Linked DNA regions of Homo sapiens. The protein of the gene in region 2 interacts with the protein of the main gene of each other region in a pairwise test. Each region holds a gene or a part of one and is shown on either strand. Other genes may lie near its edges.

Evidence for each region.
Region 1: the proteins of IKZF3 (region 2) and CPNE7 interact in binary tests that used the Homo sapiens proteins (3 or more experiments, as listed by UniProt).
Region 3: the proteins of IKZF3 (region 2) and STX11 interact in binary tests that used the Homo sapiens proteins (3 or more experiments, as listed by UniProt).
Region 4: the proteins of IKZF3 (region 2) and CCDC102B interact in binary tests that used the Homo sapiens proteins (3 or more experiments, as listed by UniProt).

Annotation. Positions count from the first base shown.
Region 1 is NC_000016.10:89,571,121-89,579,226, reverse strand, and holds the start of CPNE7 (copine-7), read right to left. Parts: upstream 3,470-8,106; 5' UTR 3,330-3,469; coding exon 3,156-3,329; intron 1,701-3,155; coding exon of another isoform or gene 1,689-1,700; coding exon 1,506-1,688; intron 371-1,505; coding exon of another isoform or gene 231-370; intron 1-230. UniProt on the Homo sapiens protein: Calcium-dependent phospholipid-binding protein that may play a role in calcium-mediated intracellular processes.
Region 2 is NC_000017.11:39,854,192-39,861,739, forward strand, and holds part of IKZF3 (zinc finger protein Aiolos), read right to left. Parts: intron 1-7,548. UniProt on the Homo sapiens protein: Transcription factor that plays an important role in the regulation of lymphocyte differentiation. Plays an essential role in regulation of B-cell differentiation, proliferation and maturation to an effector state.
Region 3 is NC_000006.12:144,146,089-144,153,777, reverse strand, and holds the start of STX11 (syntaxin-11), read right to left. Parts: upstream 3,262-7,689; 5' UTR 3,075-3,261; intron 2,683-3,074; exon of another isoform or gene 2,373-2,682; intron 1-2,372. UniProt on the Homo sapiens protein: SNARE that acts to regulate protein transport between late endosomes and the trans-Golgi network.
Region 4 is NC_000018.10:68,891,732-68,899,279, forward strand, and holds part of CCDC102B (coiled-coil domain-containing protein 102B), read left to right. Parts: intron 1-5,487; coding exon 5,488-5,697; intron 5,698-7,548. UniProt on the Homo sapiens protein: During interphase, forms fibers at the proximal ends of centrioles to maintain centrosome cohesion. During mitosis, dissociates from the centrosome following phosphorylation to allow centrosome separation. Contributes to CROCC/rootletin filament formation.

The DNA.
Region 1 (8,106 bases), on a different chromosome or scaffold from region 2:
TCTGCCTCCCAGGTTCAAGTGATTCTCCTGCCTCAGCCTCCCCAGTAGCTGGGACTACAGGCACGCACCACCACGCCTGGCTAATTTCTTTTCTATTTTTAGTAGAGATGGGGTTTCATCATGTTGGCCAGGCTGGTCTCGAACTCCTGACCTCGTGATCCCCCCACCTCGGACTTCCAAAGTGCTGCGATTACAGGCGTGAGCCACCGTGCCCGGCCTGTAAATTTTACCTCAATAAAAAAGAAGGACCCGTCCTGGCAAGGTGTGAGGATTCCGTGCAGCACAGGAAGTGCTTAGCGCAGTGTCCAGCAGGGCCCAGCACATCAACAGACACTCTCATCACGACTTGCAGAAGCCACTTTTGGGCTGGCTGTGGAGGCCGTAACCCAGAGAGCATCACCAAGGAAGCAGTGGCCACCGTAGGACCTGCTGCTCACAAGGAGGCTTCTTTTTTTTTTTTTTTTTTTGAGACAGAGTCTCAATCTGTCACTCAGGCTGGAGTGCAGTGGTGAGATCTCCACTCACTGCAACCTCTGCCTCCCGGGTTCAACCGATTCTCCTGCCTCAGCCTCCAGAGTAGCTGGGATTACAGGCACATGCCACCATGCCCGGCTAATTATTGTACTTTTTGTAGAGATGAGGTTTCAGCATGTTGGCCAGGCTGGTCTCGAACTCCTGACCTCAAGTGATCTGCCCGCCTCGGCCTCCCACAGTGCTGGGATCACAGGTGTGAGCCACCACGGCCGGCCACCAGGAGACTTTTAGGTGCTGATATGGAGGGGCTGCTGCACGTCGTGGAAGTGAAAACGCAGGATGCAGAACAGGGAACGTAATTTGTGTATTTTTGAAAAAAGAGGAAAAGTGGGCTGGGCACCGTGGCTCACGCCTGTAATCCCAGCACTTTGGGAGGACAAGGCAGGCGGATCACGAGGTCAGGATTTCAAGAGCAGCCTGACCAACATGGTGAAACCCCGTCTCTACTGAAAATACAAAAATTAGCCGGGCGTGGTGGCGGGTGCCTGTAATCCCAGCTACTCAGGAGGCTGAGGCAGGAGAATCGCTTGAACCCAGGAGGTGGAGGTTGCAGTGAGCCGAGATCACGCCACTGCACTCCAGCCTGGGTGACAGAGCGAGACTACATCTCAAAAAAAAAAAAAAAGAAAAAGAAAAAAAAGAAAAAAGAGGAAAAGTGATAGGCTGGTTTGCTCCTGTGAAAATCTCTCTCTGGACAATGTCCAGGGACCTGGCAGCAGCTGGATGGGGCAGGATGGAGGCGCTCCACAGCCTTTTATACCTTCAGGCTTTAAAACATACGAATGTATTACCCAGTTCAAAATTACATGTATATTTTAATCTAATAATGACTGTTCAGGAGGAGCTGAGGAGGGGGCAGAGCCAGGTTGGCCACCCCAGCAGGGTCCCTGCGGTGCTGGTACATCAGCCTTGAATCGGCTGTGGCCCCCACGCCAACCGTCCTCCTCCCTCCGAGGGGACGGGGCACCCACCTGCCCCAGGGTGCACTCCATGCCCCCCAGGAAATCGTCCTCCTGACAGCTGAAGCCGCTGGGCCCATGCGTGTCGTACACCTCAAAGCGCAGCCTCTGCACCTCCTCGAAGTAGTAGTCCACCGTGAAGACCTTGGAGAACACGGGATGCAGGCTGCTCCGGACCACCTCGGTTCTGCCCACCTGCAAGTGCACCTGTGAGCCGACCCCACTCCAGAGGCTTCCACCCCGGGCTCCAGACCTCCATCTCCCCTCTGCCGCTCACCCACGCCCAGGTACCTCAGGAGGACTCATACCCTGGGAAGACCTCCTGCCTGCTCTCTGTCCATGGGACCACAATCCCGAGGGCCACCCTGGGGGTCACCCCTGGCCACCACTGTCTGCTCCACCCTCAGATCACAGATGGGGAAAGTGAGGCTCACAGAGGACGAGAATGACACGCTGAGTCGGGGGCGAGATCAGATTCACACCCTGGGCTGGGCAGCCCTAAAGTGCAGGCCGCTCCCCAGCACCAGCTGAGTGGGGAGGGGGCGTAGGGTACAGGGGGGCCCTCCCTCCTGGCTGGGGTACCATGGGCTCACCAGCCTCTCCCATCCCATGCAGTTCCCTGGTCCAACTGCCCCGTAAGGACAAGACCCAGCTGGGCCAGTAGGCTACTCATTTCAGAATCCTGAAAAATCCTGCACCTCAAACCAAGGGCAAACATGGGCCACCCGTACAGCTCACGCTCTGAGGGTGCGGGCACGAGGCCTCCGTGGGGATGGTGGGCTCGGGATGTGAAGGGTGGGCTCAGGCTGTGAGGGGCGGGCACGGGGCCTCCGGGGGCAGCCGGAACCCTGGGGACAGGCGGTGAGGGCGGGGCAGGCCCTTCACCCTCAAGGTGGATGACCGGAGACGCCACCGGGTGACCGCGTCCCTTCCACCGCCCGAGCAGCCGCCCGGGCCCGCGCTGGAGCCTGGAGAGACCCCTGCGCCGGGGAAAAGCGCTGGCGCCCCGCGCGGACTGGGGTTCGAGTTCCGGCTCCTCCGCCCGCTGCGGCTTCGCGCCATGCGTTTCTCGCCCTTTCGAGGTGAAGCCACGCGTTTCACGCGAGATGGTGACCGAGGAAGCGCCCGTCTGGCGCCGGCCCCGTGCCCCTTCGGACCCCAACCGCGATCACAGCGGGTTCGCTTGAGACCCACGTTGGAGCGGGAGCCCCGGACGCCTGGAGGTCCGCACCCCAGCGCGCGCTCCCTCGCCGGCCTGCTCCCGCCCAGCCTCCCGCCCCCCGTCGGCCGGCGCCCCTCACCCCTCAATCTCCTTGCGCCTCTTGGTCGAGCCCCCTGCCCGCGCCTCATGCCTGGGCGCTTCACTCTGGCCCGGGGCCCCCTCCCCGAACCCTGGGCCGCACCCCTCACTGCGGGGCACCCCCCTCTCTCCTCCGAACCCCGCTCGCCGCCACCTCCTCCAGCCCAGCCTCTCCCCACAGCTCTGGACACCCCACCCCCAGACCTGGTAACCCCCAACCCTGACCCCGAGCTGAGCCCCAGCTCCGGGGGGCCCCGCCTTGCGCCCCACTGGCCTCAGCGCGCCCGCTCTGGTCTCCGCATCCCCAGCTCGGCGCCAGCCCCGGCCCGGTGGCCTCTCGGCCTCCCACGCCCCGGCCCTACCTGCACCCACTGGCCCTGCGCCTGCTGCAGCAACGCCACGCTGGGGTCGGACTTGGTGAGCGGGTCGCGGTCCAGCAGGTGCCGGCAGCTGAGCCGCAGCTCCACCTTCGAGGCGCAGGGCGCGGGCAAACCCCCGGGGGTTGCCGCCGCCCCGCGCTCCGAGCCCGCGCTCATGCTCCCGGCGTTCGGGGGCCCGGCTGGGCGCACTGAGGGGCCGCTGCCCGCGAGTCGGCGCCGCCGCGGCGCCCGGGAAATGGTGGCCGGCCCAGGCGTGGCCGCGCTTCCCTGAACGCCTGCCGGGCGCGGGCGCACGTGGCTCGGGCGGCCGCCGCGCGGGGACTGCAGGGGGTGGGGCGCGGCCGGGGGGCGGGGCCGGGGAGGGGCGCGGCGGGAAATGAGGGCAGGGGGCAGAGGCAGGGGTGCCCCTCGGAGATGCCCGGGAGGAGACAGCTTCTAATTCCCCGGGGACCCCCCCCCCAACTGATAGCTTTGGGGTCAGGTCGGGCGCGCCCTCCCCGGCTGTGCGCATCCCCGGCCCAGGGACCGGCTCCGGGCTGGAGGCTCCGAGCTGCGCGGGGCCTGAGCCCGGGTTCGGACCCAGGCAGACACTAGGGGAGGCAAAAGGGGGACCCCAGCTTGGCACCAGATCCCCGCGCCCTTCCCGGATCTCTAGGATCCCATTTCCAGGCTCCGCTGGTTTCGGGTACTCGCCACCTCCATCAACAAGCATTTAGTGGGCGCCTGTTGTGTGCAGGCGCCGCGCTCGTCTGGGGCTGGAAGGACCGTCCCGGGGGGCCGAGGGCTGAATCGCGGTCTGATTCCGAGGGGTCCGCGGGGCACGGTCCACACCAGTCCCCCGAGGCCGGGGCGGGGCGGGGCAGGCCTGGGTTCCGTGGGGGGTGGGCCCGCTCCGCCCTGAACTCACTCCCCCACCTTCCCCATCACCGGTCCCGGGGGAGGGAGCAGCGGAAGAGGAGGCGTCGGCGGGGACAGAAACCACCTCGCAGTCCACTCTTTTTGCCGATTTCTGCCTAAAAATAGGGCACGGACCTCGCCAAAAGCCACGGGGGTGGGGGGCGAGGGTGAGGGAGACATTAAGACTGAAGAGGCGGGAAGACCGGGCGCCTCCGCTCAGCCTCGGCGATCAGGACTCTAGAAGAAGACCCTGCGGTCAGAGGGGACCGCCGCCGACAGGGCGAGGAGGCTCAGGGCCCCGCCGGCGGGAGGCAGCACAGGCAGCCTCGGCCTGGGAGGAGGAACGCGGCCAGCGGCGTCCCCTCGCGGTCGGACGGCGGGATGGCGCCGGGCGCGGCTGCAGGGCGGGGAGGCCCCACGGGGCTGGCAGGGCCGGGAGAGGCCATGGAGACCGGCTCCTGCCTTCCCGGGAGGTTGGCTAAAGAGGCGAGGAACAGGTCAGGGCGCAGCGAGGCCTGCAGGGCCCCATCTGCTGTCTCCCCGGCCTCTGCGCCTCCTCCCTGAAGCCCGCAGTGGGCAGAGGCCAGTCCCGCTCTCTAGGGACCAGTCTGGGCCTTCCCGGCCCTGTGTCCTCCTCAGCCCAGCCTTCCAGGCTGCCGGGAGGCCACATCCTCGGTCCCCAACCACTTCCATGGGAAAAGGATGCGAAATTCAGGCAAAGGGTGCGGGCGCCCAGGCAGCTCCTGCAGGCCGTGCCTCCCGCTCGGTTCCAGCAGCCCTGGGACAGTTTTCCCCAGACCAAGCTCCGCTTCCTGCCTTGACCTCACCCGAAAGCTCCTCACCACCGCCCTGAGGTTTGCTCGTCTGCAGTGTGGCGTGAGGCCTGAGGTCCACCAGGCTGTCTGAGGGGTACCCGGCTTAAACCTGGAACACCCCAGTTCAGCCCTTGGCTGTCACATAGCGGCACCCTGGCAAAATAACAGATGGCTTCCAAGCAAAGGACGCAGGGAGCCAAGAAAGATCACAGAGTTTGGGAATTTGAGTCTCTGAAGCCCAGGGCGATTTGGGATCTCCAGCCACAGCCCTCGGCCGGCTTGCTGTCTCCTGACTGACAGCCCTGACTGCAGCCTGCTCTAATGGAGAGAAACCACAGAAGGAAAAGCCGATTCCCCTGTGGCACTGGTGTCTGGACGCTGCCTGCCCCTGCTCAGGGATCAGCCCGCAGTAGGCCCAGGTACAATGGAAGGACCCCGCAGGCCATGTGGAGCCATCTTTCCAAGGCTCCCCCTCCCAGCTTTCCCTGCAGGGCCAGACACAGGAAATGAGATCCACACACATACACGCAGGAATAATAACCGTGTTCCTTGTTGAAATATTAGACAATGCAGATAGGGAGTAAAAACAAATTTCCAGACCCCAAAGCAGCCCATCACCTCCCCACATCTAACCCTCCAGGTTTTTTTTTTTATGTGCAAATTTCTTTTAATTGTCAAAAAAAAAAAAAAGGTGCCTAACTCTCAGAGCCCTTCCCACACTTGAGAGGACTCTTCAGTATCTGCACGCCAGGCTCATCACGCGGGCCAGGCCCGGGACCCCACGCCAGGCTCATCACGCGGCCCAGGCCCGGGACCCTGCCTGGCACGGTTGGAGCACCATAGGTGTTGGTGCAGATGGTTTCTGTTCTGTAACCTGCTTTTTTCTTTCTTATTGACAATATTGCATTCAATGGTTAGCCTGGATCCCCTCATCACTGGGTTACCTATGAGACCCTCTGATTAGTGCCGACCCCCACGGCTATCCAGAGGCTTACACATGATCAATTTTAGGAGCAGCAATGACATATCTGTGCCCAAGTGCCCTGTGTGGCTTCCTGGCATCCAGGACTCAGATACTTTTCAGGCCCAAGTGCCTCTGCCTCAGCCTCTCCCACCACCCGACCCCTACCTACCCTGCAAAGCCCAGCCCAGTCTGAACCGCCACCCAACATCCCTCCCTGGGCTCCCGGCCCACACGTCCACAACATCAGTTCCACTGTCCAGGGCTGTGCTGCCCATGACCTCATCCACCCTGGACCAGGAGTCCACCGAGGCCTGAGTTAACACCAGTACAGGTCCCAACACAGAGTCTAAGACAACAAACTCCAGGCGGATGAATGAAGTGCGGATCAGCGAATGAAACGCAGCTCTGGTGGCTGCTCTCTGGTCCTGGATCTGCCTCGAGGGTGTCATCTCCATCAGTCACAGAGTCCCCATCTCCCATTTCAGTAACACTGGCCACGAGGCCAACCGGGAGCAGGGAAACCTGTCCAGGGCCTCCAGAGGTTCCCGGCAGACCCCAGGCCCACTGCTACTGCCTTGAGGCACATCCCCTGGAGCCAGTGCTCTCCCCCACACTCTGACAGCCCTTTGTCCCTGAGCCAGGTCCAGAGTCCATGGCCTCCTCCCTGGCCGTCCTGAGCACACAGCTGGTGTGCTCCAGTGGACCGGTCCGGGGCTCGGTCCCCACCCCTGAATGCAGGGTCCTCGAACCTGCCCTTCATGTGGAGAGATTGTCCCAGAAGTTGCCTCAAAACAAGAAATTGCAGAGGGTGGGGGTTACTAACAGGATTGTTTAACAGGAAACAGCTCTCCACGTGTCCGGATGGGTGCTGCTTTTTTTAATCTGGTTGCAAACCTACCCTCTTCTTTTCTTTCCTCCTAAAGAAAGGTTATTTTATCTTAGAACATCTGCAACCTGTCTGGATCAGATTGTCTTCCTGCAGGATCTGATGCTGATCTTATTTGAGAAATCAACCATGCCCAGAGGCGGCCACGCCGGCTGTTGGCTGAGACAACACACCTGGCCAGTCTCAGTTCCTCGCTGACCTTGTTACAGCCTCAGAGACCTGGGGACTGATTAGGGGGACTTTCTCCTCCACCACACTCAGCACATGCAGGCACGCACGAGCACACGCCACACACGTGTGCCAAATACCGCAGACACGTGCACGTACTCATGGAGAGACAGCCCACACGCAGACACGCCAGGCACCCAAGACACACAAGCGCAGACACAGGCCACCCCAGGGCAACATATGTTCCAACCAGGGGGTCCCCTTCCTCCACTTCCTTCCCCCAACACCGTCTTCTGGGTGTGGATGAGACCCCCTTCTTCGAGACTCCCTTCTCCTCCAGGCGCGTTCTCGCGTGCAGCCCCGGGCCGCCATCCCTCCTGCCCCTTGTCTGCATGCAGCCAGGAGCAGACCATCCCAGCCCCCAGCATCTCTGCCCAGCAGGAGACACCACTGCTGGCGGGAGACATGGCTCAGAGAGGGCGTTGTGGTGGCTGAGACCACACAGCAGGGGTGGAGCTGGAACCCAGAACCCAGCTCAGAAGCCAGCGCTCACACCTTCCTCGGCCCGTCCAGGCCCTGGGGTGGAACTGGAACCCCGCTCAGAACCCAGCCCTCACGCCTTCCTTCGCCCGTCCAGCCCCCGGCGTGGCTTGATGGCTTTGCTGCCCTTGCCCAGAATGTTCCCAGCAGACCCTCAGGAGCACTTACTGTGGAGGGGCCCAGACTTCACAGCCCCTGTGCAGTGAGACCCAGGGGTCAGGGTCCCTGCCCAGGACTGCACGCTGGGGACACCGTCCGGGACTGGCTCTTCCTCACCCCCTTTGGCCCTCCTGAGCCAGGACCCCTCTGTGCTCAGACTCAGGCACCAGCCATCCCAGAGTCCCCAGGACTTGGGCTCCTGGTCCCACTGTCCCCACTCCTGGGTCCTCTCTTCTTTCTGACTGCCAAGCCTGCTGACCAGCAGTGGCCCTGGGCCCCTGGACCACCTCCCCGGCCCCCGGACCGCCTGTACCCACTCACCTCCTCCCGTCCCCGCTCACCTCCTCCCGTCCCCGCTCACCTCCTCCCGTGCCCCGCTCACCTCCTCCCGTGCCCCGCTCACCTCCTCCCGTGCCCGCTCACCTGCTCCCGTGCCCCGCTCACCTCCTCCCGTGCCCCGCTCACCTCCTCCCGTGCCCCTCACCTCCTCCCGTGCCCGCTCAC
Region 2 (7,548 bases):
ATTTCAAAATGTAAATGCACCAGCACAATTATTCCAGAAGACAGAATAAGGTAGATAGACGTATTTGTAGAATCACCATGAATGCAACAGCTAAATGCAGAAGGATGCATGCTGCATCAATTTAAAAAAAAAAACAAGCAAGGAAATAAAATTTAAAAAACAAGGAAATAAAGCCATGGATCAAATGAAAAACAGTAATAATAATGGTAAAAGTGGCTAAGCTCTAAACTAAACAAAAAAAATCATCCTCTCTCAATGTAGGTGGTAATTCCAATCCTAGATAAATTTGAGTGTACTAAAACCATGCAAAAATGCTTCATGTTTGAACATAAAATGGAGTTACAGTCTAGAAGTCATTAGACAGCAAAAAATGTCACTACGTTTCAGAAAAGGAAGGTATTCCTCTTAGAATGAGGGATGGCTTCCTAAAGGAGATGGCATTTAGGATAGACCATAATGGATGAGTGAGGATTTCAGTTGGCATGATTGTGGTGCTATTAACAGTGTTGGGAAGTCAGGAGAAGTTGGTTTGGATTGGAGAGAAAATTAGTTCATTTTTGGACTTGTTGAGTTGGAAGAACAGCATTAGAAAAATGGGGAGTGAGGGAAAGCAATGCCTGAACAGGGAACACTAAGCAGCAGTCCAGAGTCACATTACAGGACAGAAGATACCACTGGAAAGGTACTGAAGCTGTGTTGTGGAGTATCTTAAATGTCCAACCAAAAAATATTTAAAATGGTGTCTGAGTAGGAGAATAACTTTATGTTTTAGGAAGATCATTCTGGCAGCAATCCTCAAAACAGATTAAAAGAGGCAAGTCTAGATACAGGGTTACTAGTAGGAAAAACATGTAACGGTCTAAATCAGTCATTTTCAAAATGTGTTTTATGGAATCCAGGGTTGCAGAGGGCTGCCACAGGGCTGATCTATGGCAAGAGGAAGATAGGCTTAGCAGTGGTCTCTTGCTCCTTCTCCAATCTCTCATTTGGAACATTACACTTGCATCTGATCCCACATAAGATTTTGGTATAAACGGTGTCCTGTTGCAAAAAAAACAAGTTTTTGTCTTGTTTTTGTGTCTAATCCTAACTCTTGTTGAAATGTGAGACTAACAGTGAAATACCTCAAGGTCATCGTGTAATCATCAAGTCTCATTGTGTAGAGTAGTAGTTATAAAATCTATAAGCACTACATGAATTCCTAATATCAACTTGTTCAGTCATTATTTGTCCTATTATATAGATTGGATCTCCCTCCCCAAATTGGATTACGTGTAAAAATGTTCTAGTTGTTTAGGTCTGGGGCAACTAAGTCCATACTAGGTCATTGATGTTTGCAATGGATATCTATAGAGTCCTTTGAGAATCTCCAAATTCCTTTTATTGAGATGTGCATACTATGCTATTGGCTTGGCACACTTAGAAGCTGTTACTTGTTTGTGCATTCTGGTCTCCTAGCCCTACTAATTCAAATCTGAAAAATTAGTCGGGCAGTATTGGCACATGCCTGTAATCCCAGCTACTCAGGAGGCTGAGGCAGGAGTGCTTCACCTTATTATTTCAGAACAGTTTTTAATTAAACTACTCCCAGAAACTTGAGAAAGGATGATAAGTAATCTTTGCTTCAAAGTTGAATCACAAAAATATTTAACATTCATTTTATTTCATTCTGAACATAAAAATCAAACAAGAAATGCCCCAACTTTATTATAAGTATTTAAGATTTATAATATACGATGATGATGTAACATGTATTATAATATACAATGTATATTGTATATGTACAATATAACATGTATATTGTATATGTACAATATAACATGTATATTGTATATGTACAATATAACATGTATATTGTATATGTACAATATAACATGTATATTGTATATGTACAATATAACATGTATATTGTATATGTACAATATAACATGTATATAATAACTCTTTTAAATGCTTGTAAGGTTACATGTTACATGTCTTTGTTAGTGAGTAGTTGATTACTATACTGTGACAGAAGCATGTCCCAAGCAGCTGAGCCTTAGCCTTTACAGGCACTTAATAAAGTACAGGGAATAAGACAGTTAGTAATATTCTTTTTTATTTATTTATTTTTTTGAGACGGAGTCTGGCTCTGTCACCCAGGTTGGAGTGCAGTGGTGCAATCTCCACTCACTGCAACCTCGGCCTCGCAGGTTCAAGCAATTCTCCTGCCTTGCTGGTGGTGGCACGTGCCACCACACCCAGCTAATTTTCATATTTTTAGTAGAGATAAGGTTTCACCATGTTGGCCAGCTGGTCACAAACTGTTAATAATATTCTTACTTAAATAACTTTTACAGCGTGGTGGCTCATGCCTGTAATCCCAACACTTTGGGATGCCAAGGCGGGCGGATCATCTGAGATCAGGAGTTCGAGATCAGCCTGGCCAACATGGTGAAATACTGTCTCTACTAAAAATACAAAAATTAGCCGGGCGTGGTAGCGGGAGCCTGTAATCCCAGCTGCTCGGGAGGCTGAGGCAGGAGAATTGCTTGAACCTGGGAGGCAGAGGTTGCAATGAGCCAAGATTGCACCACTGCACTCCAGCCTGGGCAACAAGAGCGAGACTCCATCTCAAAATAATAATAATAATAATAATAATTTTACATGAGAAAATATGCACAGGAGAAAAAAGACCAGCAGCACCATGATTTTACTCATCATGTTTATAAAATTTTAATATTTGGAAAAAAAAGCCTCATTTTGAGGTCAGAGGATAAATTTATACACTGATCATCTTCAATACTTTAAAGTCTGGAATTTTATGTGAAATTCAAATGAAATTTAAATCAAGTTAGCCCGTGAAGCACCTTTGTGGAACTGCCTACACTGTATGTAAGCATATAAATCAACTATTAGTGATTTTTAGCAGTCTAGGTCAAGGGATTTCTTAACTAAGAGATAGAGGTAGATGACAGCAAAAATGACTAGTTGTTATATATTATAAAAATTAGTTACTTCCAGTTTTCATACTGGACAATATTTTCCATCAGTTATGATGTAATTCCATATCCATAAAAATGTTATAGGTTTGTGAGAGTGATCTTTTTCTCATATCCACAAACTCCTAGAGGAAATTGTTCTGATGTGCCAAATATTCTGGTAAATTAATAGTCTCTCTAATATACATTACTTCTTAAATGAACTGATGTTGCTGTGATAGAGTATTCAAATTAAGTGATGTTCAACAATTTTAAGAATCAAAACATCTATTGTGAAGAAAAGGTTTATAGTGGAAACTGCAGTGCTTCACTGAAATAAAAAATGTACCAAAATTATTAAATAAAGCCAAAAGTTAGAAGGCATTGTATTTTGTGGGGGGCATGGATTAGAAAAATGGCCGTATTCACGCATTGGATTTAGCCAATACTTCAATCTCTTCTACCAAACCTTTAACAGTACCTTTAACAAATTAGCCAGCAAAATTTACCAATTTCAATGTCTCTATTTTCCTTCCCCCCTTTACTATAAAAGCTGGGCAAGAAAAGAGTCAAATGATCAAACACACAGGCAACTCATTCATTAATTTATTAAACAAATATGACTACAGGCCTACTATGTGCTGGGGACTGGGTTGGGTACTAGTTACCACCGATTATAAAAAGATCCCCAGCTACGCATGGTGGCACATGCCTCTAGTCCCAGCTACTCAAGAGGATGAGGTGGGAGGATCGCTTGAGCCCAGGAGTTTGAGACCAGCCTGCAATGTAGAGAGACCTCATCTCAAAAATTAAAAAAAAAAAAAAAGAGAGAGAGAGAGATCCCTAAACTTTGGAAAATAACAGTCTAGAAGGGGCTATAGGTGTATTAATCAACAAAATAAACAAGAAACTTAGTTGCATAATCCTTAGATAATTCAGAGTAGAAAAATAATAGTTTTGTTCTGTTTCATGAGTGACAGTATTGAAATGTTTTCCATTTCTTATTTTAAAAGTTTCCTTCATTGGCTGGGCATTGGTGGCTCACATCTGTAATCCTAGCACTTTGGGAGGCCAAGGCAGGAGAATCTTTTGTGCTCACGAGTTCAAGACCAGCCTGGGTAACATAGCAAGACTATGTCTCTATTAAAAAAAAGGAAAGAAAGAAAAGTTTCCTTTGTAAACCCACAATAACCTAATCTGCCAAAAATTTCATCTCTAAGAACACTACTAAGTACAATTTGTGACATATTGCCAATTCCACTGTTATAAAAAATCACTCAGTAAGCTGATTTTAAGTACTGACAATAAGTAAAGAGTAATGCACTTTGTTTCATATCCATTACCAAGTACCTAGTTTTTTGTTTGTTTGTTTGTTTTGAGATGGGGTCTCACACTGTCACCCAGGCTGGAGTGCAGTGGCGCGATCTTGGCTCACTGCAACCTCCACCTCCCAGGTTCAACCAGTTCTCCTGTCTCAGCCTCCCGAGTAGCTGGGACTACAGGCGCCTGTAACCATCAAGTACCCAGTTTTTAAATATCTCCTGGATTGGACACATATCTAACATAATATTTTCATATGGTATTGGTATTTAATATAATACGGTAATTCCATATTATTTTCATTTACTGTATACCACTTTGGACTTACATTTTTTGTTGTTGTTGTTGAGATGGGTTCTCACTCTGTTGCCCAAGCTGGAGTGCAGTGGCGTCATTACAGCCCACTGAAGCCTCAAACTCCCAGGTCAAGCCATCCTCCCACCTCAGCCTCCCAAGTAGCTGGGACAAGTGCACACCACCACACCAGGCCAATTTACTTTTATTTTATTATTATTTTTTATGAAACAGGGCCTCACCATGTTGCCCAGGCTGGTCTCAAATTCCTGGCCTCAAGAAATCCTCCCACCTTGGCCTCCCAAAGTGCTGGGATTACAGGTGTGAGCCACTGTGCCCAGCCCTTAAATTTTTTAAGTAACTTTTTAATTAAAAAAAAAACTTTTAATTTTGGATGCAAAAACCAGATTTCAATTAGACTGAAAAAATAACCTCATTCAGAATCACTAGGGATAAAAGTATTTTGATGAGTTATATAGTAATATTAATTAATAAAGTTATACACAGATTACTTTTCAAACAATCTATATATATTATAAATAAATTATAATTATTGTTTCATTATTGCATCTTTTTTTTAGTGATCCAAAAGGCCTTGGTGTCATCCTTATGATTTTTTTTTTTTTTGAGACAGGGTCTTGCTCTGTTGCCCAGGCTGTGGCATGCTCATGTCAGTGCAGTGGCATGCTCATGGCTCACGGTAGCCTCGACCTCCCAGGCTCAAGCCATCTTCCTACCTCAGCCTTCCAAGTAGCTGTTACTACAGGCATGTGCTACCACACCTGGCTAATTTTTGTAGTTTTTGTAGAGTCAGGGTTTTACCATGTTGCCCAGGCTGGTCTTGAAGTCCCAGGCTCAAGCAATCTGCCCGCCTCAGCCTCCCAAAGTGCTAGGATTACAGGCGTGAGCCACCACTCCTGGCCTCATCCTTATAATTTCTAATTATCATAAATATACCAGTTAATATGGAGCTAAATTTAATAAAGGCTAAATAGCAGAGTACATTCTATGGCCTTGTGATGTGTAGGGTCTCTTTTCAAAATAATTAATGAATCCTTAGGACAAAAGACATTTATTGAGCACCTACTATAGGCAAGTTTCTGTGTTAATCACTCAGTTCTTCTCATACATGGTCTGGAACTATAGCTTGACATATGAGCCAATTATCATTGGACATCTATCTAGGCCAGGTGCAGTGGCTCACTCCTGTAATCCCAGCACTTGGGAAGGTTGAGGCGGAAGGATCACTTGTGGCCAAGAATTCAAGACCAACCTGACCAACATAGTGAGACCCCCATTTCTACAAAAAATGAAAGATAATAAATCAGCAGGTCATGGCGGTTTGTACAATAAATTACCAGGTTATGGTGGTGGATGCCTGTAGTCCTAGCTACTCAGAAGGTTGAGGCAGGAGGATCGTCTGAGCCTAGGAGTTTGTGGTAGCCTGGGCAACAGAGCAAGGACTATCTCTTTAAAAATAATAATAAAAAAAAAAAACTGGATGTCTGATAAAAGATCTACCAATAATCAATAATCTTTTAGTCCTAAATAAGTGTAAGTATATACATTTATATATGAATGAAAAGTTTATAACAATGTATTTTTAAAGTATCACTTGAAAGCGTATGCTATTTTTATGGCATCATCTATATCTTACTGACTGAGAAAACAAATTTCTGCTCATATTCAATGGATATTTTAATGGACTAATTGCGATCCTGAAATCTGCTTATGTAAATTTAACAGTTAAAATTTGGCTTTACACAAAAAAGAATGAAATCATATCCTTTGCAACAACATGGATGCAGCTGGAGGCCATTATTCTTAGTGAATTAACACAGAAACAGAAAACCAAATACCGCATGTTCTCACTTATGACGGGGAGCTAAACACTGGGTACACATGGACTGTTATGAATTAATGTGACCCCCAAATTAGACACTGATGACCCCAAAATGGGGAAGGGTGGGAGGAGGGCAAGGGTTGAAAAACTACCTATAGGACACTATGCTCATTATTTGGGTGACAGGATCAATAGAAGCCCAATCCTCAGCATCACATAATATACTTATGTAAGAAACCTGCACATGTACCCCCTAAATCTAATTTTGTTAAAATTGGCTTTAAGTGACAGTCTAGCAAAAAATATCCAATAACATTTTTGTTTTCCAAGCTTTCTTTTTCAATTATACAGTTTAAGTGCTTAAAAAATTACTGAGCTTTATCAAAGAATTACTAGCCCCAATCTCCTACTTTAAAAATTTATTTAAATAAAATGCATCACAATAAACATAATAAAAAGTACTTTTTCAGCACTATTTTAATTGAATGCAACAAATTCTGAGGGCCTTCTATGAACCAGAAACTGTCCTTCGCATTCAGTGTACAAAAACAAGACACAGTCTCTGTTCTCCAGAAGCTTAAAGACCAGAGGGGGAATAAACACCTACATCAATAAATAATTTCAACACAATGTGGTAGAAGTATACACAGAAAGGAGAGGCCCTTAGCTGAGGTGAAGGAACATGAGAGACTGGGTAGGGGTGATCACCAGAAGGCACTAGGAGGAGGTCATCAGAAGAAGGTCATCAGAGAGCCTTCATGGCGATGATGCCTGAGCAGAGTCTTGAAAGATGAGTAGGCATAAGCAAGTAGAGAATGGGTGAACATAATAGCAAAGACATGGAAGCATGAAATAGCATACTGGATTAAAGGAAGTACAAACAGGAATTTTGAAAAATTATGTTCTACCAGGACGCCACGGCCTTTCTGTGGCTTTTGTTTCTTAAAACCTTCGCATTTCATCCTCCATACGCTCACAATGGAGGGCAAACAGATTCCATCATCTACAGGCTTTATCTCTGTTAATCTCAGCCATCCAGAACATGGAAAGGGACCTGAAACAAAACCCTACTACCACAAAATCTATGTGGTAAGAAATATAAGCTGACATCAAGAAGGAGACAAAAATTGT
Region 3 (7,689 bases), on a different chromosome or scaffold from region 2:
ACCTATTAAACCTCTACCAGCCCCTTCCCTCTTTTCCCATCTGCATTGTCACTGCCCGATTCAGGCCTTCTTCAATGTCCCATCTGCAATATGACAACAGTTTCCACGGTGTCTTCCTAGGGTCAATGTCACTCTCATCTAATCTAAGATTTTTAAAATTCCAAGTTTTGTTATTATTTTTTAAACACATACCTGACAATATCATTCACTTGTTCAAAGGCTTCAGTACTATTAAACCCTCATGGGGCCTTTGTGATCTGGCCCTTCCTGTCTCCGTAGGCCTCCCTCTGTGCCGTCACTAAACAGGCTGGAGTTTCCTGAACGTCCAGTGCTGTTTCACTTCTCTATGGGTGCTGTTCCTTCTGCTGGGTCACCTACAGCAGACAATTCCACTTGCCTGACAATTCATCCTCCTACGTGAAGGTTCATTATTCCATCAATAAACACTTTCTAACACTTATCATGAGACAAGCCTGGGCCAAGTTCAGGGAGTACAATGCTGAATGACAAACTCGACCCTTTCTTTCTCATAGAAAAAGTAACTTTAGGGCTCTCAAAGGAGGAATAAAGTTTGGAAATTAAGGTAAAGTTGTCTGAAATTTAGCATTGTTGCCTTTACCAGTTGGATATCTTAGCAAACTGGGGAAACTTGGAAACCTTGATACTTGGGCATCCAGTTCAAAAGCATCTCAGCAGATTTCAATTGCAACAGTAAACTGTGATACGGTAGATTTATTCATTTTGGCTCACACGGCTATAATGTGATAAAAAACATTGATTTGAACTACAAAAACAATGATCATAAACTCGCTTCAATATAGTGTTACCAATGTATAAACTATTAGGCAGGGCATGGTGGCTCACATCTGCAATCCCAGCACTTTGGGAGGCCAAGGCAAGCAGATCACCTGAGGTCAGCAGTTCGAGACCAGCCTGGCCAACAGGGCCGAACCTTGTCCCTACTAAAAATACAAAAATTAGCCGGGTGTTGTGGTGGGTGTCTGTAGTCCCAGCTACTTGGGACGCTGAAGCACAAGAATTGCTTAAACGCAGGAGGTGGAGGTTGCAGTGAGCCAAGATTGCACCACCACACTCCAGCCTGGGGCAACAGAGTGAGACTCTGTCTCAAAAAACAAAACAAAACAAAACAACCTATTAATTAGTCACACCATTTCCTAAAAGTCATGCTGTTAACTAAAGGTGACTGCAATTGTCCAGGGGTGATAATCAGCTGAATTTCGTTTTACATGGTTATTAAATAACATGAAACATGGTTCATTCAAGCACTTTAAAAACCATACCTTTCAAATTCATACATTTTTAAATCATGTATCAAATGAAGAATAGGCTGCCTACAAAGACAAGTAAATGACTAAACTCAAAAGTTTCCTTGCTCTTCCAGCCATGACCCAGTCCATTCCAAATCCCAGATCTTCAGAAACATCAGTCATATTGGGACAGAAACTTTTCTCTGGGTATAGATTTACCCTAGCACCTATCTCATTATATTGAATTTTCCAGCATATTTAAATAAACTATTAATTAGTCACACTATTTCTTAAAAGTCACACTATCAACTAATCGTGACCGCAATTATCTAGGGGTGATAATCTGCTGAGTCTACTCTTTAAATACACTGGGACCCAGCATATTGAGTTATATTGGCACAGAAACTTCACTCTGGGTATAGATTTACCCTAGTACCTTGCCGGCAGGATCCTATTATTCATGGTTGTACAAGCAAGGTTCAGGGAAGAGGCTGGCACAGAGAAGGTACCTGGTAACTGTTGTTTGAGGCTGAATTCAGCTCAACTCAGCTCCAGTAGAGATGGTGTCCCCTTCTCTACCGTGTTGAGATAGTGTGCAGTCCCTTCCTAAGGGCTGTTACCCACCGCAATAGGACTTGTCAGCTTCAACTTTTAAATTTCTCTGCTCCCGCTGGGACCCACCCGCTTCAAAAATCATCATGTGGTTTTAGCACCAATTTAGTAAACACAAACTGTCTGAAATATTTTGATTTTAGAGAGTTACTTACAATCACCACATTAAATGATACCTTTCTCCCATGCAGTGAAAATGACAGCAAAATGGTCATTGAATAATGAAATTAATTTTCTCTTGGGCATCTGTGGCAAAGCACATGATTTCAATGGTTATCTTAGATCAGCCCAGTGACCTTTACTGGCATGTTGTAACATCAGGCGCCTTAGGAAACTGAAAACTCAATCGTCACTTCCCATACCACTGCCCCAGGTTGGCAGGGCAGGCATTTCACATCTAGAGTCTCATTTTAAAGCAAGCCTCGCTTTTCAAAAGTTCATTAACAAAGTCTCACAATTAAGAGAGCAGCCCTGTGACTCATTTTTGGATACCTGTAAATAACAGCTCCTCCCTCTGCTGAGAAACGGCTGAAACAAGTGCGTGAGAACCACAGGAAGTAATACAGATCTCAGCTGGTGTCAGCGGAGTCTAGAAAAAGGCAGAATTCCCTCTCAGGACGGCGTGGCTCTCGCAGGCATTGCCACTACTTCTCTCCATGTTTCTAAAACAAAGTCTTACGTGGGCTTCGAAGGGACTCCTCGAAGGCTCTATCAATTTCTCCGTCTTTCCTGGCTACTGAGTGACACCGCCAAGTTCAAGTCAAGAAGTACCCATTCTGGTGTTTTTGACACAGTCACCCTACTAGGAAGTGAAGAGGTGATAATAAAAAAACACTCCAGCCTTTCGATTTAAAATAAAAGTAGTCTTGGGTGGACACTTTATAAAGGCAGCCTACCAACAGGTATCCCTAAAATAATTCTTACGAAGCACTAAATCCTAAGTCCCTCAGCCTCTGAAATTAAAAGTAATTTTAAAAAATCATTCTGCTTTATATGAGAAACCCAATGCTGTGTTTCCGAAGGTGCCCAGAGGCGGCGTGAGGACCTGCGCCAGATCCAAAATCCCACCTAAGGCACAGCCGCGGGTCCCGAGCCTAGACAGTGCCCCCGCCCCGACCCGCCCTCCCCGATCTCTCCGCGCACGGGGAAAATAGTCAGGAAGAGAAATGGGGGCTCAGGAAGAGAAAAACAAACCTGGACTGGGAGCGAGAGTGCGAACCGAGAAGCCCCTCTCCCGGCAGGGCGCGCGTCCCCTGTGGGCGCAGCGATGGAGAAGGAAACCTGTTGCGCGACTCCCGGCGGCTCCGCTCCCGGCGCCTCCTGCGGCCGAGGCTGAGTTCCTCCACGGCCGCCCGAGCTCCGCGCCGCCGCGGCCGCATCTGGGCGCCGCCGGCTCAGCCCCCGCCGCTTAGGAAGCGACCACAGCTGGGGACCAGGCCCCGCCCCGGGATGACAGCGCTGGGGCGCGGCGGCAGCCGGCTCACAGAGCGCGGGTTCCCGCCCCACCCAGAGTCCATGCGCTCGGGACCGCCCGGAGCCGGGGACGCGCTCCAGCCCCTCCCGCAAGCCCAGGGGCGTTCCCGCGGGCTGCGCGGACCGGCGCGGGGAGTGGGATGTTTGCCGCCCAAGACACTTCCTCCGCTCGTCCTCTGGTCCCCAGGGCAGGGAGCGCGCTGGACTTCCCCCGGGAATCCCCGCTGCGCTGGTGACATTTGCAGTCCGGTGCGTTGCCGCGGCGAGGACGCTGGAAGCCGTCTCTGAGCGTGGGTGTGGCTGCGGAAGCTGCGGCAGGTCCTGCATCCCTGGGACCCTCGAGGACGCGGGCGAGGAGCCTGCGGTCACACGGAGGCCGAGCACCGCCTTCCCAGAACCCTGCCGACCAACCTCTCTCCAGTCGGCCTCAACACCCGCCGGGCTCATCATTCTCTGGATATCAACTGAGCGTCCCCTTGTGTGCCCACCGCGCTCAAAAATACTGCCAAGACCCACCCTCCAGGTCCCGGCACTTTAACGGGGAGGGATAAATAGAAAGTGTGGATTGTGCCAGGTGGTGGTAAAGCACCTTGAAAAACAAGGCTGAGGCTGAAAAGTAAGGAAGTGATACTCAAAAAAGGAAAAATCGGGCCGGGCGCGGTGGCTCACGCGCGTATTCCTAACACTTTGGGAGGCCGAAGGGGGAGGATCTCTTGAGCCCAGGAGTTTGAGACCAGCCTGAGCGATGTGGTGAAAGCCTATCTCTACAAAAAATAAAAAAATTAACTGGGCGTGGTGGCGCACGCTGTGATCCCAGCTGCTCGGGAGGCTAAGGTGGGAGGATCACTTGAGGCTGAGAGGTCAAGGATGCAGTGAGCCGAGATCGCGCCACTGTACTCCAGCCTGGGCGACAGAATGAGACGCTGTCTCAATTGAATGAGAAGAAAAAAAATAAAACTAAAGAACGAATCCTGCCTTGATGGCAGAATGTTTAGACACAGGAACCACCTGAAAGCTCCCAGTTGCCAAAGATGGAACCATTTGAGCAACGAAGTAAACTAAACAAGGTAGTATTGGATTACAAGCCAAAGTAAAAAAATCCATGAGTCTACACTGATATAAATAAATAATTGAATAAATAAATAAAAGGCGGAGAGGAGACAAATCTCCTATACAGAATAATTCCAAATAATTTATGTAGATCATGTACCCTAGGCTGTGCACAGTGACTTCCTCCAAAATAGTACAATGTGGAAAGGGAAAAACAGTAGGTTTACAATGGAGAAAGCCGACAGACACTACCCCAGCCAGATGTTCTAAGCCAACGTCAACAATCGTGACTCATTGATGGCATGTAGTCAATATGATGTGATGAATGTGGCATATTACATGTGTGGTCTCCCTCCTGGAAAACCATAACCTCAGTCTCATAATGAGAAAAATATCAAACAAATTCCAGTAGTGGAACATCCTACAAAATACCTGACCAATATTCCTCAAAGTTGTCAGGTTATCAAAAGTAAGGAAAGTACAGTCCAGACGTGGCTCACGCCTGTAATCCGTACACTTTGAGAGGCTGAAGCGAGAGGATTGCTTGAGGCCAGGAGTTCGAGGCCTGATCTGGCCGACATAGCCAGATGCTGTCTCTACAAAAAATAAAATAAAATAAGGAAAGTCTGAAAAACTGCCGCAGCCTAGAAGAAACTCAGGAGACGTGAAAACTAAATGTAATGTGGTATCCTGGATGGGATCCTGGGACAGAAAAAGGACTTGGGGAAAAACTAAGGAAATCTAAATAAAGCATGGACTTTCATTAGTAATAAGAATCAAGGTTGATTAATTAGTTGTGAGGAATGTAATGTAAGATGGTAATCATAGGGAAATCTGAAATGGAATTTATGGAAATTCTGTACTACCTTTGCAGTTGTTCTGTAAATCTAAAACGGTTCTAAAAAATACAGTTTATTTTAAAAGAAAGTAAAATAAGAGGGATGAGGTATGTTATATTTTTAAAAATGGGTATATTGCAAAGCCATCTAAGATAAGAGAATCATTGAGGGAGGAAACAATGCAGCTATTGGGATTAAGATCATTTCAAGCCTAGGAATCAGTGGATGTAAAGGCCCCGAGGCAGGAGCATGCTGGGCTTCTGGGAGAAATATCAGCGTGGGCAAAACAGAGTCCAGGAAGAGTGATGGTGGTGGGGCTAGGAGTGGGGAGTAGAGCATGTAGGGCATTGGTAGTCATGATAGTCTTTACATTTTACATTGATTGAGACAGGAAGACTGAAGAATGTTTATCAGAGAAGCTAAATGATGTTGCTGGTTGTTTTTTTAATCTACCGTTTTGTTGAGGACAGATTAAAGGACAAAGATTAAAACAGGCCAACGAGTTAGAAAGCTGTGATGGTTAATTTGATGTGTCAAATTTATTGGACCATGGGGTGCCCAGATATTTGGTAAAACATTATCCTGGGTGTGTCTGTGAGGGTGCTTGCTGATGACATTTTTAATTTTTTTGAGACAGCAGCTCACTCTGTTGCCCAAGCTGCAGTGCAGTGGCATGATCATGGTTCCCTGCAGCCTCGACCTCCCCTGCTCAAGTGATCCTCCCACCTTGGCCTCCCAAAGTGCTGGGTTAACAGGCATCAGTTACCATGCTCAGCTGAGATTAACCTTTGAATCCATGGAGAAGACTGCCTGAAAAAGTAAATTGTGGATGGGGAGGAAAGGTGAAGATTGCTGGGGATTAAGAGTGGCATTTTGGACACCTTCAGTTTGGAGTTGTCAAGTTGTCATGAAGGCAGTTGGTTAGGTGAGTCTGGGATGGTGGTATATATTTGGAGTTCTTTAGCATATAGATGGTGTGCAGACAGAATGGGGATGTCTGAAGTCTGAGTCCTGGCATGCTCCAAAGTTCAGAGGTTAGGAAGATAAAGAATCAAAAAAAGAGAATGAGAAGTTCTGATTAGTGAGATAGATAAACCAAGAGAGAGCACGTTTCAGGAGCCAAATTAAAAAAATTTTTGTAAAAAAGAACAATTAACTGTGAAATGCTGCTACAGTGTGTAAAATTAGGACGGAAAACTGAGGAATGGGCTTGGCCACATGGAGGTCAGTGGTGAGCTTGGTAAGAAGAGTTTTAGTGGGGGATGACCAAAGCCTGTTTGGAGTGAAAGAATAAAAACATCAGATGAAGACAAAGAAATGGAGTAGAAACAGGAAGGAACCATATAGTCAAAGCAGTTTTTTTTTTTTTTAATTAGAAGCTATACATGTTTGTTTGCTCACCAGCATGAACCAAAAGGAATGGAAAGAGGGATGATATGGGGGAGAAAAAATGGGTTACATGCTGGAGCAATGTTCTTGAGTAGATGAGCAGGTGTGCAATCCAATGCACACATGGAAATTTAGGGTAAAACAGAAGAAAGAGTTCATCCCTGGTAACAGGAGAGAACAACTCCAAACTGAATGTGTCCAAAATGCCACACTTAATCCCCAGCAATCTTCCCCTTCCCTCCCCATCCACAATTTACTTTTTCAGGCAGTCTTCCTCATGGATTCAAATGATAATCTCAGCTGTGTGGTAGCCTGTAAACCCAGCACTTTGGGAGGACAGGGTAGGAGGATCACTTGAGCCCGGGAGTTAGAGACCAGCCTGGGCAACATAGGGAGATCTTGTCTTTACTAAAAATCAAAGAATTAGCCGGGTGCGGTGGTGCATGCCTGTTGTCCCAGCTATTCAGAAAGTATGGCAGAGATGCTGGTAAATGTGGAGGCAAGAACATATTTTATCAATGAAATTAAAAGCAAGAGCTGGACGCCGTGGCTCAGGCCTGTAATCCCAGCACTTTGGGAGGCCGAGGCGGGCGAGTCACTTGAGGTTGGCAGTTCAAGACCAGCCTGACCAACATGGAGAAACCCCGTCTCTACTAAAAATACAAAATTAGCCGGGCATGGTGGCACATAATGACAGGGTTTAGAGTATGGCCAATCTGAATTATCTTCCGCAATTGATCTGCTCACACCCAGCTGAAACCCCAGATTATTCTTGTTTTATAAATTTCTCTGGAGACCTTGGCTCTCCCTTCCAGTCTGGAGTTTTTCAGAGATGATGACCGATAAGGACCTTAGGGTGAAGCTCAGATAAAACAGAGCAGGCACTGGGTGCGGGGCGTGGCAGTTGCATGGCGATCTGTCAGCCGTGGCCATCATCCTGCACGCTAGTGCCGTTCCTAATTTACAGAGCTCTAAACCCATTGAATCCCAGGGTTGGAAGGTCCTCTAGCACAGCCACCCTTCTGAGGTGCAACTCCTTCATGGCCCTCAGTCAAATA
Region 4 (7,548 bases), on a different chromosome or scaffold from region 2:
GAGAGAGGGATCTCTGGTACATCTTCCTTTTCTTATAAGGACATCAGTTCCATTGGATTAAGGCCCCACCCTAATGTATCCTCTTAATCTTTATTACCTATTTATAGAACCTATCTCCAAATATTATCACACTGGGGATAAGACTTCTAAAGACAAATATTGGGGGGTACACAATTCAGTCCATAACAGTTGGGTAGGATTTTCCAGGGATAGCAAGAATAAGAGGTAACAGGTGGGTTCTATGGGAGAAAGTGGAATAATAAAAATTACGAGTTGTGTACTTAATTTCTTAGTTGTAATATGCCCTCTTTTGTCGATACAGTGAAGGGACACTTTTTAAAAATCCAAGCTTTTGGGTAGGAGGATGAAAATCAATTTGTCTTATGATTCTTTGATAATTCCCTTAATATCAACTTCTTGCTTTCCTCCTGTCCCTTTCCAGGAAGTTTCTAAATGACAGCCCTGCTTTCCAAGATACCCCTTGCAATCTAGAGTGCTACCCATGACCTTGAAAAACCTGAAAACAATGACCCTTGTACTTTCTAATCTCCTTTATTACATTTCTGATAGTAGCTTGTGTTCTGGCTCTCCAGGTCTGAGATCTGTTCTCAGTTATTTCCCTGCTTAAGGTGATGTGGCTACCTTTACAGGACATCCACCATAGCGCATGTTTTCTCTTCTGCACCATCCCCATCTGACTCTGCTCCCACATGGTCTCCAGAGAAGTCTCTGCTGCCCTCAGACATTTATTGCACCTCTTACATATCCGTCAAGTTTCTATAAGTCTAAGCCTCTTTATTGTGTTGACAGGTTTGCAGCTACCAGTGATTTTATTTTTTTCTCATTTTTGATCTTTGGAGGTTGGCTTGAGAGAGTGAGATTTAGTCTGTGTTCACGTTCTAAACTATGCAATTTTCAAAGGATACTATTTTATAGCCATAGTCATCTATTTTTGTATTGATTACAAAAAATTACTTTAAGAGACTGATTTATTTGGATATTACAAAACAGACATCTAAATAAGTCTAGCAAATAAATTCAATGTAATTTAAGACTGAAAGATAAACACATTCAAATCTTGAGGGATACTGCAAAGCTTAAAAATAGGTATAACATCAATACATATGTAAGGAAATAGTTGTGTCTGGCATTAGACAATGGCTCTCATATCTCAATTACAGGGAGTGTAGTTGAACCCAGCTGCTACCTTCTGAATATTTGCAAATCAATTACTGGAACATTCACATTGGTTTTAGGTGACTCTTCACTGGCCTGCCAAGTGGCATATAGTGCATTCTTTTGGGAGTTTTCTCCATTGACTAGGTCCATTTAAAAAGTGATTGTCATCTTGGTACAACTTGAGGAAAAAGTAAATACACTATTTTGTATCTGAAGTGGCTGTTGATGTTTTCTTCTTTAGGAAATAAATTTATGACTTTAGACATTTTTGAGTTGAATTTGGAAGTTAATAAATATTTTCTCTAAATGATTTCAGTTCTCCCTCATAACACTAGGTTGTAGGAAAGAGTTTTCTTATGTTATAAAAAAGAAAAATTGAGGCAATCAGTCTAAAAGGAGAATTGGGACTCATCTGTAGGTTATTTTATTAAAAATCCTCTCTGCCTCACTGTGTTCACTACTATAAAATGTAAAACAGCTCTGGCAATAGCAGTAAGAGTTCAGAGCCAATGTACGGAGAAGTCCTTTTCATGTTATGTTATGGTAAGTCTAGTAACTGGATTCTTTTAGAGTGCTGTCTTAATTTTGCTTTGTGTGTAATCATTGTCATTGAAATACAGAAGGGCTTTTTCCTGGAGACTGTCATTATCTGCTTTCTCTTTCACTTAACAGTTATTTATGGAGCACACATACAGTGTGTGTCTGGTGCTGGGCTTATGAGCAAAATGACACAGTCCTGGTTTCATAAAGCTTACATTCCAGTTGTTGTTAATGATTACAATTGTCAGTATCTTTTCAACAATATCAAGCCATGGCAGTTGAAGAATGAGTAAATAGCTATGTTTAGAAAATGATCCAATGTTTTATCCTTCGGAATAATCACAATATTACAGTTTTTACAAGCAACTCAACTGATTCTGATATTCATACTTATTTTTCAGAACCAGTCCGTGTTTGTCCAGTTTCCTTTTATACCATGTTCTCCCCAAATCCTAACATTCCATAACTGCACAGACTCTTCTTGGTCTTGCACTGTTCAAACATTTTTCTTGCTTTCTGTGCTTGGTACACTCTGGGTCTGGCTGTGCTTTTCTGCCTTATTAAACTTCAATTTGCAGCTTAAATATCAATCATTTCCTCAAACAACCTTCTCCTTTTACCTGATTTATTGCAGGCCTTTCTATGACACTCAATTTTTTTTCCTTTGTAAAAAGATGCCCAATGTTACTCATATTCTATTTGTATTTTTAAAGTCATATATTCAGTTCCTCTTTGTTTCTTGATACATAAATAAGCTCAATAAATATTCATTCAGTAAGTGTAGTATTGGATATTTATGTACTTTTTCTCGACGTTTAATAAGAAATTGATGTCATTAAGTGAACAAATATTTTAGTGCTTACTGTACAAAGAATGTACTTTTACATTAAAATTTTCAGAAAACAGGTTTCAGTAATTTCTGCATTATCTGAAATTCATTTAATGCTAGAACACGCTATTGGTTAAAATTCACAGTTGAGTTAGAATTAAAATATTTTAGGAGTTTCTCTTCATCATCAGAAGCAAAGCAATGGAATTCTATTTCCATTTGATAAAATTATTGTAATTTTTATGATAAACTCTGAGAGCTTAAAATATTACCTGACTTTTTATTTATCATTTTAAGGTACATGCAATTAAATGCTTTTTAAGTTAGTGAATTTTCATATGATTCTTGGAAAAGAATGATGTGATAAGAAACAGTTTTACAAAATAAAAACTAAAACTTCTTATAATTTTATAAGACTTTTACTTTTTAATATATGTTATACACATATATTTATCAAATAATTTGTATGTTTTGATAAATCTGCCAATAGTAAAACATCAGAAGGCATTATTTAAGCTTTGTTGTTGCTACTGCTAAAATCATTACTTAAAAAAAATCTTAAGAGTTAAAATTTATTCATTCAGACCATGTATTACTTATTTAAAACCTTGGTTCTACTTGTTATCTGTTATTTAATGTTAAATCAATTTATTTAATTTTAACATTTAAAAGAATACTGCAAGTTCACAAAGACTTGACACAGCATATTTGTCCTTGCCCAAAAATACATTTGCTCTCCTTATATTAATTTTTCATTGCTAAGTTGCTGCCTTCTTGTGGCAACTTTATCATTTTTATTCTGATAAGTGAGGCAATGATAGAAACTTTAAGTATTAATCTTAACAATGAAAGTAATGGCAGGTACTAAATTAAATTGTGATATAATATTTTCACCTCATATTCCCAAACAAGCATCCCAAATGTCAAACTACATCATCTAAAATTTGACCCTTAGTTTATTATATATAATTGGTAAATGAGGTCTAGTGCCAAGAATGTAATTTTGGTTTCCTACATTTTGGAAGCCAGAACATCTCTTAGATTTGGGAACAGAACATTTTCTACAATAATGGTACAATTATATATATATGAAAAAGCAGTTTTTAGGCTTTTATATCATAATTTATTATGATACTATAAAGGATATTGTTGAAATGTAACATTTTTCTAAATGTTGACTAAGTTGTTGGGCTTTTAGAATTTAGCATGTCATAGCAACAGATTTTATAACAGTATAATAATTATAAAGTATGTTGCAATGAAGCCATTATAATCAACAATGTTAAAACAAGTAATTTAGAATTTTTATCCTTTTGAGATATTTTTAAAATGCCTCATACTCTAATCATCCTAAATAGTTTGCAAGGAATTTTGAGTAGTTGACCCTCTTCTGTCCCTACAATACCACAAATATGGTATTTGTGCTATTGTATTTATGGTATTATATGTATGGTATCATACTAATTTTACTAGTAAGAAAACTTAATAAGATAATAAATTTCTTGTCCAGAATTAGACAATGAGTAAATGGTGGGACCAGGATGAGATTCTAATAGATTTTCTACTGTAAAGAGTTACTCTGCTGTATAGATTTATGCAATAAATTACATTGATGTCTCGATATCCATATGCCTAAATATATGAGAGAAACATACATTTAAAAAATTTATATTACCACAGTGTTTCTCCTTTAAGTGTTACATTGCTAGACAAAGTGCTTTCTAATTACTTTGATTAATTTCACTTCTCACAAACCTTGTCAGATTAAATAAGTTGTCTACATTGGGGTAGATGAAGTTACCTGACTAAGCTTATCCAGAGAATAAATGGTGAAGTCACATTAGAATGCATAGCTCAGGACTATAATTTAGAGACAAAAAAGCTACTATTCACTTCTACTTACAATGTCCACAGAAAAATTATAGCAGACGAATATAATTTCATCTCATAATAATAAGCACTTAGATGTAATAAAACTGCAGAAAATAAATACATTTGATATTGCCTCTTTAAAACTTAAAGACATTAAAATAACAAAAACCAAAGGAGATATTAAAATTATCTTAAATCAGAATTTCTAGAGTAGGCTTCTGGTCATTGATAGTAATAAAAATCTCCTCATGTTGATATACCATGCAGCCTTGGTTGAGAACCATGGGAAGAGGGCAGAGGTTGACAAAACTTTAGTGTAAAGGACCACAAAGTAACTATTTTGGGCTTTACTACCTATATGGTCTCTCTCTCAACAGCTTAACTTACCCATTGTGTGTGAAGGCAGTTATAGGCAAAGTGTGAAGAAATGAGCGTGGCCATGTCCCAATACGATTTTATTTGTGGTATAGTTTGAATTTTATATAATTTAATGTTGAAAATGTTTTAATGTAAAATTTTAAAATATAAAATGATAAATTATATATATTTTTTCAATATAAAATTAAATTACTTTTTGCATTACTTTTTGGCAACTGCAAATGTTGCATAGATAGAGAGATAGAGAGATAGAGATAGAGAGATCCATATAGCATCTGTCTATTCCCTAGATAATTGAGTGAATGAATAAATGAAATATATCCAATCAAAATTGCCCATGAAATGATATTGTGTCTTCTCCACTGAGAATGTTTATCAGTTGAGAGTGGAGATTAATGTTCCCAAGAGCAGCAGTTCTTCACTTGACACATATATTTGAAAAATATGGTACATATGGCTGTAGAGATAGTTACATGAACCAAGAGGAAAAGTATATTTATCTACGGTTTGGCCTGATCTTAGGATTTTTGTATTTTTCTCATGTTTTCAAACAAATAGAATTTTCTTTTTAAAATTGTATCAGTGGACATATCCATGAACTTTTCTTAATGGGAGTCTGGTTGTGGGTGGCATTATCTTTTGGCAATTGCAAATGCTGCATGCTGCTTCTTTGTGTTTTCTGTGTGTAGCTAGAGAGATTGCAAGCTGAAAATACCTCGGAGTGGGACAAGAGGGAAATACTTGAAAGAGAAAAGCAGGGACTGGAGAGAGAAAATAGAAGGCTGAAGATCCAGGTGAAAGAAATGGAAGAGCTTTTGGATAAGAAAAATAGATTAAGTGCAAACTCTCAAAGTCCTGATTTCAAGATGTCACAAATTGATCTGCAAGAAAAAAACCAGGTATGGGTGCTCCTTGGAGCAAATTCTCACTGTCTAATCTCACTCTGATGCCTACGCAGAGTCTGTCTTCACTCGTACACGCCTCCACATTTGGATATTTCCTTTTGTGCCAGCTAATACCTGATACTCCTTGCTCTTTTGCCCACTAGGATGTAAAATAACGTTCATGCATCTGAAACAAAGTGTGTCAAATGTTAAAATATGACAAATCTTCAGACAGTTTCAAGATTTCCAAAAGGAAGAAGAAAAATGAAGTAAGAAATAGAACTTTCTGGTTTTTTGTTTCTTATTAAAGCTTTGTCTCAGTATTTTCTAAGCTAATGATCTTATTTCCAATAAAGATTTTTTCATTAATTCAAGCGACTATACAATAAGCATTTGCTGGTAGCTATGGTAAGTATCTGCATAAACATTTAAATTTAGCTGAAACTCACTGCTTTCTGGTTCTTTTTTGTCAGTTTCAGAACGATTATTTTTGAGCTAATGAAATGCATAATTTTTCAAATAATTTTTCCAGCCTGTGGTATAAATCTTAAAACCAGGATAACATTCAGAATTTAAATTTGGGAAATTTAATTTTGGATGTGTTTTATCCCCAAGCCAGTAGATATAGTTTATGCTATAGACGGACATTTTTTTGATAGTTTACAGATTTTTAAATGTGCTTTTAATGGCAGTCTTATAGTTTTAATGTGGGTTCGTGTCAATGTGCTGTAAATTATATTTACCTTGTTTCTATTTTTCAATTATATATAGCATCTTAATGCACAATTCTATTTCTCACTCAGTTTCTTTAACAGTTTTAAAAGGTGAATTTGATAAGTTCATAGTTTTGAGATATTTAAGTCATTCATACTCACATAAGCTCTAAAACCTAAATGGCCAGAAAAATTGAATTCCATATTATTTCATCATTCTTTCATGAATCTAGGGATTTATTGCAAATGCAAGATTAAATTGTATTAGTGTTTCATGACCTAGCAATGCAAATATCTAAAGTTAAATGTTATAGTCCGTGACCATAATTTTCTATTATATTGATTCATAAACTATCCATAATAATGTATTTGATTCTGACATATGTACACTGATAAATCTGTAGACATCTTATTTTGGAGATCTCTACTCTAAAAAGTGCAGAATTATCTCAATTATGGACTGTGGTTTGATTATAGAAATACTTTTTATTTGATTTATTCAAACAAGACAAACATTTATTCGTATTATTCTCTGTGTCAGTCACTGTTCTATATGCAGGTAATGAGAATATTAATCAATGAATCATTATCCCCACCCAGCATGGGCTTAGAGTCTATATAGGGAGTCAAACACACAAATTTTTATAAATAAAACATTATAGTGATTGCTAAGAATAAAGTGGAAGGGGACACAGATTAAGAAGCAATTGATTATATTTGATTTTGGCACCTTTCTAGTTGTATCAAAATGTATTAATATAAAGTATATCTTTCGGGAAAAATTGAGACCTGTTTGGAGCTGGCATTGGCGTAACCTGTCATCAGGGCACACCGAGTCCAGACCTGGTCTCTTTGACAATGTAGTTATTTGGGCTGGGACTAAGCAGAACTTGGAAACTGAGAGGATCCTCAAAGGTCTAAGTCAGTGGGTATGCTGATCACTTAGAAGACTGTAGGATTTTTTAAGTATATATCATTTTGATGGTGAGGGTGGTGGTTGGTGATTTTTATCCTCTTCATTACAAATTCAGACTATCTGCTGGAACTAAAATAATCACTTATTTTGGAACGGTAGCAAGCCAAAATTCTTAGTGCAACAGGAACTTCCCCAGAAGCTCAAAATGTCAAGATTATGATGTCCTCAAATGTCAAA